Linked DNA regions of Homo sapiens. The protein of the gene in region 2 interacts with the protein of the main gene of each other region in a pairwise test. Each region holds a gene or a part of one and is shown on either strand. Other genes may lie near its edges.

The links.
Region 1: the proteins of CLVS2 (region 2) and KAZN interact in binary tests that used the Homo sapiens proteins (3 or more experiments, as listed by UniProt).

The regions. Positions count from the first base shown.
Region 1 is NC_000001.11:15,112,533-15,118,550, reverse strand, and holds the end of KAZN (kazrin), read right to left. Parts: coding exon 6,010-6,018; coding exon of another isoform or gene 5,527-6,009; exon of another isoform or gene 4,081-5,526; coding exon 3,916-4,080; 3' UTR 508-3,915; downstream 1-507. UniProt on the Homo sapiens protein: Component of the cornified envelope of keratinocytes. May be involved in the interplay between adherens junctions and desmosomes. The function in the nucleus is not known.
Region 2 is NC_000006.12:123,006,225-123,013,383, reverse strand, and holds part of CLVS2 (clavesin-2), read right to left. Parts: intron 2,400-7,159; coding exon 2,225-2,399; intron 1-2,224. UniProt on the Homo sapiens protein: Required for normal morphology of late endosomes and/or lysosomes in neurons. Binds phosphatidylinositol 3,5-bisphosphate (PtdIns(3,5)P2).

The DNA.
Region 1 (6,018 bases), on a different chromosome or scaffold from region 2:
TGTGCTGGGGCGTCCCACCACTAGAAATCCAGTCCGGTAATCTGAAGATGTAAGTGCCCCCAGGAGGAGTGACGGAGTGACACAAATGACACAAGGGGAGGGGACTTGTCAGGTGTCCACTCCTGACTGCAAGTTCCCAGGGCAGAAGGCAATGCCCCCACAGGGACTTTTCCAGACACTCCGAGTGCACCTGAATTGCATTTTGAGTGATGCTGCCTGCTAAGGTAAATCCTATGCTGGGAGGTGGGGGGAGGGGGGTTTGCCAACATTGCAGGGGGGTGAGGGTTGGGAGAGTGTGTAATTGTGAGGATGATCCTGGGATTTGGAGGCAGATGGACTGGGTTTGAGTCCCTGCCCTGGGATGTCTTAGCTTTACAGAGCTGGGCAAGGCCCTCCACCTTTCTGATCTCAGCTTCTCCATCTGTGAAATGGGTTCAAAATCTCACAAAGAGGCTGCTGGGAACACTAAATGAGAAAACACAGAAAAAAGCCCCCTCTGCCATAAAGTGCTGTGCAGTAGTATTTATTGTTACAGTGTTAAAATTCACTCTCGGGGAAGCGATTTGGGGCCACGGCCCTAGAAACTGCATCTTTGTTCAGAGCCAACCCATTTCCTCTGCAGCCACAAAATGCCTTTGTGTGTCAGGGCTCGGGAGATTCTCCTCGCTGGCCAGCCATTGGCAAGAATGCCAGACTCAGAGGTTGCCATTGCCCACAGGCTTTCTTCTCCTTTCCTTTCACAGCAGGAAGAGCCCTCCGGAGCCTCGAAAAGCAGAGTGGAAGTGGTGGTGCCCAGGACGCATGGGCTCTGATGGGAAGAGGGAGGTGGGCCTGAGCATGGGCCTTCTTCTCCCCAGGTCAGAGGGGCCTGGATGCCCCTGGAGGGAACACTGAGGTCACCTCTGGCCAAATCTTCCTGTTCTGCCAGTACCCAGCCCTGTTCAGTGACGTCAAGCTTTTGGGTCCCTGTCCTGGGGCCCTCCACGCTGGCCGGGCTGTGTAGAGACGCCCTTCTCTCCACTTTATTGGGTCCAGATTGTTGTGTGGCTTCTCCCCTCCTCTGCAGCCTGGGGTCTGAAAACAGCGATGCCAACAGACAGACAGATTTCCAAAAGAAAGGTCCGGCTCAGCCAAGGACAAAGGGGCCTCGCAGAGGCTCCTGGGGGTCAGAAAGCTGAGAGTCTACCAGGCAGGTGCCTTCTCCACCCACAGGCACAAGCTACAACAGCTTTCCAAGAAGTGCATCCACATCGTCCCCAGGTCCAGATGCCCACATTGCCCTGCAGGGACCAAGACCACACTCGGGCTGCTTGGACAGGATGTAGCTGGTCACTGTTCTGGAGCTGGCCCCTCTGTAGCCTGTGACAATCAGCTTGAGTCTCTCTGCCAAGTCTCCGCCTTCTGTTCTTCTTGCCGACCTTGAAGCAGAGTTGACGTTTCAGGTTTTTCCAGCAGACAAAGCTCACTCAATCTGATACTGTGGAGGTTGTTAATTTAACAACCAACCCATCCTCATGTTGAGAAACCAGCTCCAAATGCTCACCTGGCTGTCAGGGATGGGGAGCCTCATGGGTGAAAGAGGGTTGTGATGGCATAATTTAAACCAAAAGAGGCATTCGCGGTTGCCCGTGTTGCCTCAGGCCTGCTGGCCTCCTGCTGTGAACATTTTGGGCAATACTGTCTCTGCCAGTGACCCCCAATTGTCCACTTGTCTCCAGCAAGATCGAACCATGTAAGTGCCATTTCTGACAAGTTGGGTGAACGTTGGTTTCAAATCATCAGCTCTGCATTCAAGTGCCCTGCTACAATTCTGGCTCACTCTGTGGGAATAACTGCCTGCCTGGGCACGTTGCTGTTGCTGCCTCCCAAACGGCAGTTTCTGGGGTCCCAGGTCATCCAGGCTGGATGTGGCTTGGGAGAGACCTGTGGCACCAGGTTGGAGGGAGGTCTCACCTCTCCTTTCTGAGCTGTGGACTGCAGCTTCAGGACCCTATGGATGAGGCCGAATGTCATGAAGATAATGGAATTTGGAGTCTCAACAAAGCCAAGCCACATGCCAGAGATTCACCACCTGGGGCCCAGGATCAGAAGTGTGCCCTTAGGAGGCCAAACATCCACCTGTCTACCAACTAGACATTTGGTCTCAGACAGCAAGAAAGGCTGCGTTTATGTCATTAGGGGGAACACCACGGTCTTCGGCATGAGAGAGGTGTAATTCTCAAGTTCATCAGAGCTCGGCTTCCCCCATGAGAGGAAACAATTTGCCAGGTTGAAGAACACACGCTTTGAGGGTTCTCAGAGGCTGACACCTGTTGTGAATCTTGGAAACTCAAGCCCCAGTGCAAACGGCCTTGAAGGAGGTCGAGCATCATGGTTCCAACAAGTGACTCGCTTTGATAACCCGATGTGTAAGCAGAATCGCAATGCATCCGTCCTTCCCTAATCATCACGTGGCTGTCATCTGGTCAATGAACTGAGGCCCGAAGGCTTGAGTCAAACTGGTTTTCAAGGCTGTGCTCATGGGATTTATATGTTTCTTGAGCCCTGTTGGAGGCTCTTGGCAGGTCTGAACATTAAACATTTCTTTTCTTCCTTTTGCACACTGCTTCAACCTAAAGAGTTGGAGCGAACTAGCTCTATATCATTTCTGTGTTGTAAATGGGAAATTAGCTACCCCATAACTTCCCATTGTCTCCTGAGAGGTTACAAATTGTGTTACAGATATTAGCAAGTGTTAATCCTCACGATGTCCCTGGGAGGGAACCAGAAGTATCGTAGATGAAGACATCGAGGCACAGAGAGGTGAGGCCACTGGGAAGAAGCCACACAGCATAACAGTGGCAGGTCAAGAAAAGGGCTGGGGTTCTCCCCACCAATACCAAATGATTTTGCTCTGTGGAGTTTGTGTCTCGGTTAGGACATTGGTGAGCTATGTCACCTATGTTTCAGGTGACAGGGACATCACAACAAAGGTTTGTTGGGTTAACAATGTCAAGCATTTCCCTGCCCCAGACCCCAAACTCATTGCCACACTCCATACCACTGTCACGGAGTGCAGATAGTGGGGTTTGGAATCTCAGTAAAGCCAAACCACAGGCCAGAGATTCACCATATGGGGCCGTCGGTCATCCCCGATCCTGTTGTCCCAATAGCTTTCATTCTGGTGATAGGATATCTGCATCTCCTAGAAATGTGGCTGCTAAGCCCCACTCCTGCACGGATCATTCACCGGCTCCCCACTCAGCGTAGCCACTCCTGGGTGGATCGGCAAACAGCTCTTCAATACGTCCACCCCCATGTGTCACAGAGCTTTTCAGGTGGAAGGATTTTGCATTCTCCCAAGAGAGATTCAGTGAGCCAAGTCAGGACCCAAGTTCTCAGTCAAGGGTAAGATGCTGTAGCCGAGAGTTCCCCAACCCCCGCCCTGTCCGACGTCTCGGCAAGAGGCAGCACTTCCTGCACCCGGCTCTGCCAATGCACTGGGCGCTGGGGTGTGGGGTTGGGGTCCCCCCTGCTCCCGCCGGAAGGGTGTTTTAGGGAACTGTGGGCCTCCTCCCACCTTGGCAGCTCCGTTTAAGGCTCCAGGGACTGCTTGGCTGCTCCACAGTGACGGTCACTCTGAGGTGGAGCCTGTGTATCCTGGATGGAGGCAGGGCCGGACACTGTGACAGGTCCTCTGGGCCCATCTCCAGCTGAACAGGAAAGTCCATGGCCCACCCAAGACAGGTGGGCTGGTGTCTTCTCTCTCCTGGGCGCTGTGGAGCTGAAACCGCAGAGTCCATCGGGATTTTGCCCAGGAGCAAGGGACATCCTCAGCCTGCGGCCGCTATGTACAGTGAGAACGACACCTGGGGCCATCTGGCTTCTCTTCCTTCCTGGGTCTCTCACGTTGGGTCTGGTGGAGCCACCAGTTCCTTACACGTTGGTGACCTCCAGGCTGTTGTAGCCTTCCAGACGGCACTGTTCCAGCCTGCTCTGGGGGTCATCGTCTCCGCAATCTTCGTTTTGAAGAGAGCCATAGTCATCATGGAAATCGGGATCTTTGCTGCTGAAGCCCCTTCCTATCTTCCCCAGGGGCAGCTGAGAAGAGAAGAATATGATCAAAGGACAGGAAGAAGAGAAACAAGAATTAAGAATGAAGGTCTGGGAAATGTCTCCAATTCTAATTGCTCTGTGATTGAGTAACTTACTTAACCTCTGTGTGCTCCTCCTATTAGTAATAATACTCCCTGCTCAGGGAGGTTGAGGGGAGTTTGTGAATGACCATTAGGGGAGAGCTTTGTGTCCCCCTGCCCCCGGAAGGATTCAGTTGGTTACCAAGGGTGAGGACAAATATCGTTAGTCTGATTATTCCTGATTCACAAAAGCCTCCTTCTTCCCTCCTTGGTGGGTGGAGAGTTGAGGAAGTGTGTCCTGGAGACTACCTGTGAGAATGTCTGAGCAGGCCCATGAGGTCTGACTGCACTCCCAAGTCAAGGAGGAATATTCTAGACGGCCTGGTGTGGCAGAAAGAATGCGAGTTTTGGAGACTCACAGACCCAGGTTCAGATCCCTGCTCTGCCACTTCCCAGCTGTGTGACCTTGGACAAGTCACTTCCCCTCTCTGAGCCCATTTTTCTCAGCTACAAAATGGGAATAGTAGTTTCTAACTCCCAGGTTTGTTGTAAAAAGTAAAGTCCCACCAGTCTGGCCAACATGGTGAAACCCCGCCTCTCCTAAAAATACAAAAATTAGCCGGGCGTGGTGGCGAGCTCCTGTAGTCCCTGCTACTCAGGAGGCCGAGGCATGAGAATCACTTGAACCCAGGAATCAGAGGTTGCAGTGAGCTGAGATCGTGCAACTGCACTCCAGCCTGACAGAGACCCTGTCTCAAAAAAAAAAAAGTCAAGTCCCATCTGCAAAGCACATAGCAAGTGCTTGCACCGAGTAAGTCCTTGATGTACTTGATGAATAGTGACTATTATTATCACACATAGTAGGCCTTCAAAAATACTTCTCTCTTACTGCACACATCTCTGTGTTAAAGTAGTCACATTAGTGCTTTGTAACTATTTATTTGACTGCCTTTCTTTCCAGACCAGTGTTTCCAGATCTTCTTTTTTTATTATTATTATTGCTCCCTAAGGAGACTTTTTAGACAGTTTTTTCCTAATTGCACCCCTGCTGTGAAATTGTAATGCCACAGACATACTACGCCTCTGCTTCCGTACCATATGTACATTTGTGCTTTTACATAGAAAGAATAAGAATTTTTGCCACCGCCCCCACCCCCCACCAGCGCCAAAACAAATTTTCACTCCTTTGGGGGGCAATATCAGCCCCAATTACTAGAATGCACGTTCTAGAATGGAGCTTCTTAAGGGTAAAGTGGCAATGTATTCATGTTTATGAATGAATGGGGATCATGCCTTCTTCAAATGGAAGACATTTTGGATTACCCAGTTCTGCCGTCTCTGTCTGTGCATTTCCATTGAGGAATCTGTGTCAGTTGGAGTCTGTGCAATCAGACCTGAACTGCACATGTTTTCATACTGTTTGGTTGGAGTCACCAGAGGGTTCATCTTTGCTATTGGTCAGGTCACTGAAGTCGCAAATTGAAATCAGTGATTGGGGCTCAGAGTTTGGGGCTGCGCCGGAACCCTCTGGGCAGCCTAGCTGAATGCAGGATCCCCCTCGCCCCAGAGAACTCCTTTTCCAGGAGACCAAGGTGGGTCCCAGAATCTGCAAGTTCAGTAATAGCCCCAGGTGATTCTCATGCAGGCAGGTGAGACCTGCACTTTGAGATCCAGGTGCTACTCGAAGCCCTGCGGGGGCTTTGTGCACTGTACCCAAAGCATCGTGAAGGTTCCTTGAAGGTACATCCAGGGCATCTGTCCTGGATGCCCCCGTGACCCGGCCTGGCACTCCACCTTCACAGGCCAGCACAGGAGCCACAGAGCTCCCGGGAGGAGAAAAAAAGACCTTTCCCGGGTCTGCAGGACTCACAGGTAAATCCATTGAGAGACTTACCCGGCCAGC
Region 2 (7,159 bases):
TTCATTTTACTGACTAACTGGAAGAGGTTTATTACTGTTGTGGTGTTGATGGTCTTGGCATGGTGGTGGCTGTGTTTAGCAACCTAAAACTGTGTATGTATCTTTACTTCAAACATTTTGTGGTCTTATTTTGATATTGAAAAAAATGTTTATTCATATTCTGAATGAAACATATAGTGGTACACAATATTTGTCACATAGCAAATGCAAAGTAAAACAGTGACTTGATTTAAAAAGTCAGAAAGTGTTACTTCAGTACGAGACTAAATATGAGATCATGCATGTCACAACGGAACATTTCTAGCAATCCTATATTCTTATTCAGAATTACCATTGTTTTTAGATATACATAGAGTAGACACAGACACAGATACAGACACAGACATAGGTATAGATGTAATTATATAGCATTAAAAAGTCAATTTGAACTTAAAATAAAAATGAGTTTAAAGGTTAGTAACACATCAAATCTATTCCCAGGAAGAGCTTTTTTCTCTTAAGTGGCGTCTTAATTGGGAATTAGGAGGAATCAACCCTTCTTACTCTGTCTTGTGTTCTGGGAAAAAGGAGAAAGGGGCTGAGATATTTTTGGGGAACAGAGAGAAGGCAGCTCCAAATGTGCAGCCATTACAGGTCCATGCAGAGAATGGGATTATTTCCTTCACTAGACATAAGCACAGAGGTTTCATCTGAGTGTAGTTCCTTGGTGTTCACAGGTAGCACTTAAAGAACTTCTGATAGTAGTTACAGCTAACAAGGAAGCTCCCAAACATCTCCAAATTGTCAGTTTGTTCTCCTGCAATGACTTATCACAGTATTATTAAAAAACTCCATAAAGTAGGTTGGAAAATAGCAAGAGTCTATTCTTGAAGTGTTTTTTTTTTAATTTCTTGGGAAAGAAAAATATGAGTTCTCCAGTCCTTCAGGAGCTGAAGGCCTAGCCTAGCTCTAGTGCAAAGAGAAGACACAGGTTAAATAGGGATAACAATTATAAAAGGCTAGGTTACCATTCTGTGTTAGGTAACACAGTGGGTGGTAACCAATCTTGTTCACAAACTGAAGAACACCATATACATTGCTGGAAAAAGGGCAGAGTTAGGACTGATTCTATATGATATACACATTTCCAAACATGCATTATCTTATGCTGTCTACCATCCTGTATTAACTGTCCCTGTGGAGGTTTTTAAAAAGCATTGTTTAAGATAAGAGAGGAGCAAGGCTGTCTCACCAAGAGCAAGTCAGGAAGCCTACATCAGGAAAAACCTATATGGAGAAGAAACATCAGTGTGTCTTATTCAGTCCAGAGGCAGAAATCGAAGATTTCCAGCACCTGGAAAAGTTGCCCACTTTTAAGAGGTCAGCAGTTATCAATTTAGGTGTGTATAGATGCAGTCAGAAATTACTAATGAGTAAAAATCTAGATGACTTGGGCTTACTCAACATTGATGCCCCAGTCTAATGAATTACATCACTCAAGGACTAACTTGTAAATATTTTTAGAAGTTTAAAATCAATTCCATAAGCATTGTACACAAAGTAGCATAAAGCAAAGAGAGAGAATAGAAGGACACCCTGGAAGTTAAAAGCAACTTGACAATAGCAGGTTTATGACAGACCACTAAATAATAATATGTTTCCCATCTTCTAATTCCCAAGTAGTTAAACATTACTCACTGGAAGAAGCACTATTCCTATATAAATTCCATGTGACAGCCCCTCCCACTCACAAAAAAACCCAATGAAGTCTAAAGAAAATTTAGAGAGATGATCTTTGCATCTTAGAGACCAAAAAACATATTGATTGACTTTCCAACAGTTGAACATATTGCTGATCATATCCCAAATTCACCAGGTTAAATGAAATAATGAAGAAAATATTTAGCTAATTAATAGGCACAGAAAAAAGAAACAAAAACAAGCCTAAATAGCTAATCATTACAATCTAAAAAATGTTGCTTGTTCTGATTTTCAGATTAAAAATCTCAGCTCATTACCTGTATTTGTTTAGACAGGGAGCACTGTACTAGTGTCACAAACTCTCTTCCTTCAGCGTTTCTTCTATAATCCTTTCTTCAGTTAGTATTTTAATGTTTGTGCTCAAAAACTACAGATTTTTTTTGTTTTTGTTATTCTGTAAGTAAGACATTTTTTCATTCTAACACATTAGACAAGAGAAGTCAAACACAAGAGACCAAGGAAGTAGGTAATTTCCATATCCTACCTGCAGGCCTTCAATAGCTAATCGCAGCATACTTGGTGTGAGTTTAGAGGCTTGCTTGAAAGTGAAGTTACTCCAGTCTATGATCAAAACAAACCCATTCACTTGAAGCTCAGGATCTTCAATCATGGCTTCTAAAGAAAGTAAGATGGCACGCAAAATATCCACCAGTGTGTACCTATCGGCGACAGAAAAGTACTAAATTAGGTCTGACAACCACTTTTCCAAAAAGCTATAAAATATTTTCTAGCACACTAAAAATTCACTTTAAAATACCTTCAGAATCTTAAGGAAATAATTTTGTTTAAAAACCTATTTTAGGAAGAGGTTTAATTTATATGTACTCCAAGAACATAATCGAATTTAACATGTATTCTGCCCAAACAAATGGAAACGCTTTTTCATATTTTATCATCATTTAGTTTACCTCCAGGCCTTCTTTTGATTTTCTAAAATCTCATTCAACTAACCCAAAACTAGGCATCACACGTTTTAAGTGGTTCAAGAATGCCTTCAGTAATATTGACATTTCATATCTTCGTATTTGAAAAAACTGAGAATGAGATTTGAGTGAGTCTCATCAATAAATGAAAACACTGTACATGACAGCTATCAATAAAAGTTACTCAATTCAAATTACTTGTATTGAGTTTGTATCATAAAGAAAAGGAAAGGTGGTAGGGATAGAAAGAGAAGGAGATAAATATAAATAAAAGTGGGAAAAGTCATGGAAATTTACCTACAATAATACAAACCATCCTAATTCAAGGGTTGGATCTTTTTTTGTTGTGTTTTGTTTTGTTTTGTTTTCTGCTTTTCACCTTAGCAGGTTAGTTCCTGAAACGTTCCAGTAACCCAATAAATGCTCTTTATATTACTGTGAAAGTGACTTGACTAGAGTAGAAAGACACTGGTTGGAGATTAAGACACTGCTTCAATGGAGGCAACGGAACTAAGAACAAAAATAAGAAGCCAAATTTGAGTGGCATTTTAGACAATCTTGTTATACTGTGACAATGTGAGGACTGAAATTAGGGAAGAGTAAAAAATGACACATATTTTAGCTTCAGAGCCTGAATACATAGTAAAATTTTTAATCAATATCAATAATGCAAAAATAGGATACTGTTGGAAATGGCTGGGAATACAAAGTTTTGAATAGAACTTATTGTATTTGAGAAACATGTAGTATACCCAGAGAGGTATATCAAGCAAGCTTCTGAAACAAATGGATCCTAAACTCAGGGGAGAGCCCAAAACTGAAAATTCTGGAATTAAAAGCTTATAGACTCTAAGTTCAATGAAGTGAAGGAGGTAATGCAGTCAGAGCTAAGAGAAATATCAGATAATTATTCTAAAAAGGGAATCCCTAGAAATCTCAGCACTTTAAGAGGAGTGAGAAATTTTATGGAAGATGTTAACAATTTCAATTTTTGTACACTTTGCATTTTAAGTTTTTTCCCCGGACACACTCAGGAGAGATTTCAGGAATAGCTAGAGAAAGAGATCTGGACCTCAGGGAAGAGGCAGGATGGGGAGGGGAGTGGATTAGGAGTCGAAATCATTCCCATTTAGTGGAAATGATGAGTTCGTTAGGAAGGCAGTATGATACAGTGAAGATATATGAGGAAGTAGGTCTATTTTTACTTCTAAAAACACTTGGATGTGCTAGGAGAAAGCATAGTAGTTCAGAAAGGAAAGAATAATTAACATTAGCACTTCAGGCAATTTCTTACCATTTCAGGACCTCATTTCTTCACCTGTAAAATCAGCAGTTTGGAACAGAATCTTGTTTAGAATCCTAGCATTAATCAAGCACAGGGCATGGTGTCAGAAGACTTCAAGATGCAATCTCTGCCCAGCACCTCATTAGCCATATGGTCCTGGATATGTCGCTGATTTATAATTCTGAGGATCAGTTAACTGTCCCTATCTCATGCTATTCTCATTATCTCATTGGCCATGTTTGGGGGAGGACTGAGGGCAGCACCAGAGAGTCATCAAAGAGATGACTCAGGTGAAAACATTTGTGCAATTTTGCACAGTTCTCGGTATAAACAGGTGTTCAGTAAATGTTGGTTGGAATACACACATAGCATACTTTTTGTTAGAATGATAAGCACAGATATAGTTTACTAGGCAGAGTATAAATCAGAAATGATAATCTTTAGGATAGGCTATTAGTATTATAAAAGGCAAAAGTCAAAAGGCCTAGGGATACAGCATCCAAAAAACTATCTGAATATATAAAATAATAAAACTTTTTATAGAGCTCTGCTATGTATTTGTTATTAAATCTCTGAAACATGTGTGGGTGAACACCTTTAAAAGTCCCTTTATGGCTGGCCTACCTCCATTTTAAACATAATGGCCTGACACACTGTCAGGACCTGAAACCTATAAACACAGGCATTGGAAGGTTGGAGCAGGAAGACTGTATTTCTGGTTGAAATTCAGACCCCCACCAAAAAAAAAAAGTTTTAATTTCTGAAATTCATAATAATATCACGGTGAAGAAAATCAAGGATTCAAAAAGTCTAACTTCAAAGGTTTCCCTCATTATGAGGTTGACCATTCTTATGTTATCCATAAGAAATCAAATAGCATTAATACCAAAATGGCATTAAATAAAATTTAAATTTGAAATCAGCTTTGGAAGGATGATACATTGTATGTAGTAAAAATTAATCAAGGTACCAGTAAGGACTGAAAACAAGAGGCAATGTGTTTTAAATAACACACTTGAAGTATGGTTCTCCTAAACTGTTTCAAAATCAAGATAAACGTTGATACACATATCATTATTCCAAAGGAAATAATATAAGGCAAATCCCAAAATCAGCAATGAAGAAAAGTAGGTTTGCAAAATTATCAAGAGTAAGTCTAACCACCTTTTTTGAATTCAATATCTGGCTCCAAGAAGAGAATCAAATGATTTTTATAAAAATTACATTAATTTAGAAGTTTAGAAAAAGAAACATAAAAATACACTAGCTAACTCCATTCAATGGGCAGGTCAAAACCACTCTTAACTCCACTCCTCTGTTGTCAAACATCTCACATTATTACCATTAGCAGCTCAGCAGGCTATTCCTCAGCAGAACAGTACTACACAGGATCTTGCCAGAATCTGTAAAATATCTTCCAAAGAAATGTAGCATCTATGAATTTTATCTCTTCAGGACTCCTGCCATACTCTCCTTTTTAAAATTATTTTAACTGTTATAATTTACAAATTAGAGGTCACTACAATGAAATACTCTACTTGTTCATGTTTGGGGTTTACACTGAAATTGTGTGAGTTCCACTATTGTTATTCTTCTCTTGTATGCTGAAAGAAAGCTATAAATCAAAACTAGCACATAATTGCAGCTCTTGACTCCTGATTGTGCTTCTCAAAATAGCATTAAGTAAAATTTGAATTTGTGAAAAGAATGCTGTGTAGCATGCAGTAAGAAGAAATCATGACACCAATAAGAAATTTTACAACTGACACCAGACTATGTAGAATACTGCTCTTGAAAAGAATAAAAGCTGCTAGAACACATAAAAAACATATGGAGCAGACTTTAATACCCATAGCAACTATGTACTACCTGTGCAATCAGAAGGAAAACATCTAATACCTCTTGAAATTTTTCAGTTATGAAATCAGTCTTCCTTGCACAGTAGGATATATATTCATGAATTAATTATTTGGGGCATGTTTATGTAACTTAAAAGCCTTTTTTAAAGTAAAACTCACAGCTATTAACAAATACAAAATAAAATGGGGATCCTTGATTATTTGCCTAATCGCAGCTTAGTCTCATACACCTTGAAGTTACTGAACTTTTCTAAGTCTCCCTTTTCTCTTTTAAAAATGATGATAATAATAGTTACCTCATAGGACAGAATGTAAACTACTTAGCCCAATGGGTAGCACATAGCAAACAATAAATGTTAACTTCTATGACTTCTACAATTGTATGACTTTTGCTTTTTCAACAATCACATATTCTATACTTGCTTTTTGTACTTTTTAACCACTTAATCTTAACTTCATAGAATTATTGTGAGGACAAAATGAAACAAAATAATATATGTAAAGTTTTTAACAGTACTTGACATATAATAGAAACCATAAATATTTTCTGCGATTATTGCTGTTGAAACTCTTCTATTTGGTTCTGTGACGCTGCATTGAACTTTTTTTCCTTCCACTTTTCTGGTCAGTCTATTATCTTTCATCTTTGGTTCCCTGCTGCGATCATCCAAATGTAGAAATAAGACTTTGTTCCCCTGCTGTCATCATATAGTATCTCCTGGAGTTACCAAATCATGCACTCATCCCCTTGGCCAATACATTGGTGACGGCTCGATATCCACAGAGCTAGTGTCAGTCCTGTGCAACATCCTCATCTTTCTAGTTGCCATCTGAACATCAGCACCTTAGTGACTCCTTGCTACCTGACATATATTAGTGTAACTCAATTTAGTGTCTCCCATTTTCCTCTGGGATTGCGTACATTAATCAATTAATGAAGAATCATTCTCAAATATTCCCTTTCCTTCTCCCTCTACATTTATTCACCAAGTCCTAAATTTTTTTGTCTTTTATATATTTATACATCTTTGGCATCTAACTCTTTCTACTAGAGTCCTAGCTTTATTTCCTAATATAATGGCACTTGTGTCTCTTTTTCTTTCTCTCCCATCTTTCTCTTCCAGAAATCTTGCCTACCCTCTATTGTGAGATAAATTGTCCTAAAACATTAATTGGCCTGAAAAATTGTCCTGCACACAACACCACTCCCCCATGGCTCTTTCAAAACTGCACCATTCCCTTAATAACCATACTTCTTGTTTTGTACACCCATGCATAGGCTCACCCCAGCTGTCAAGGTCATATTCAACCCCCAACAAGCTGGTACACTCCGATGCTTTATGTTCACTTAA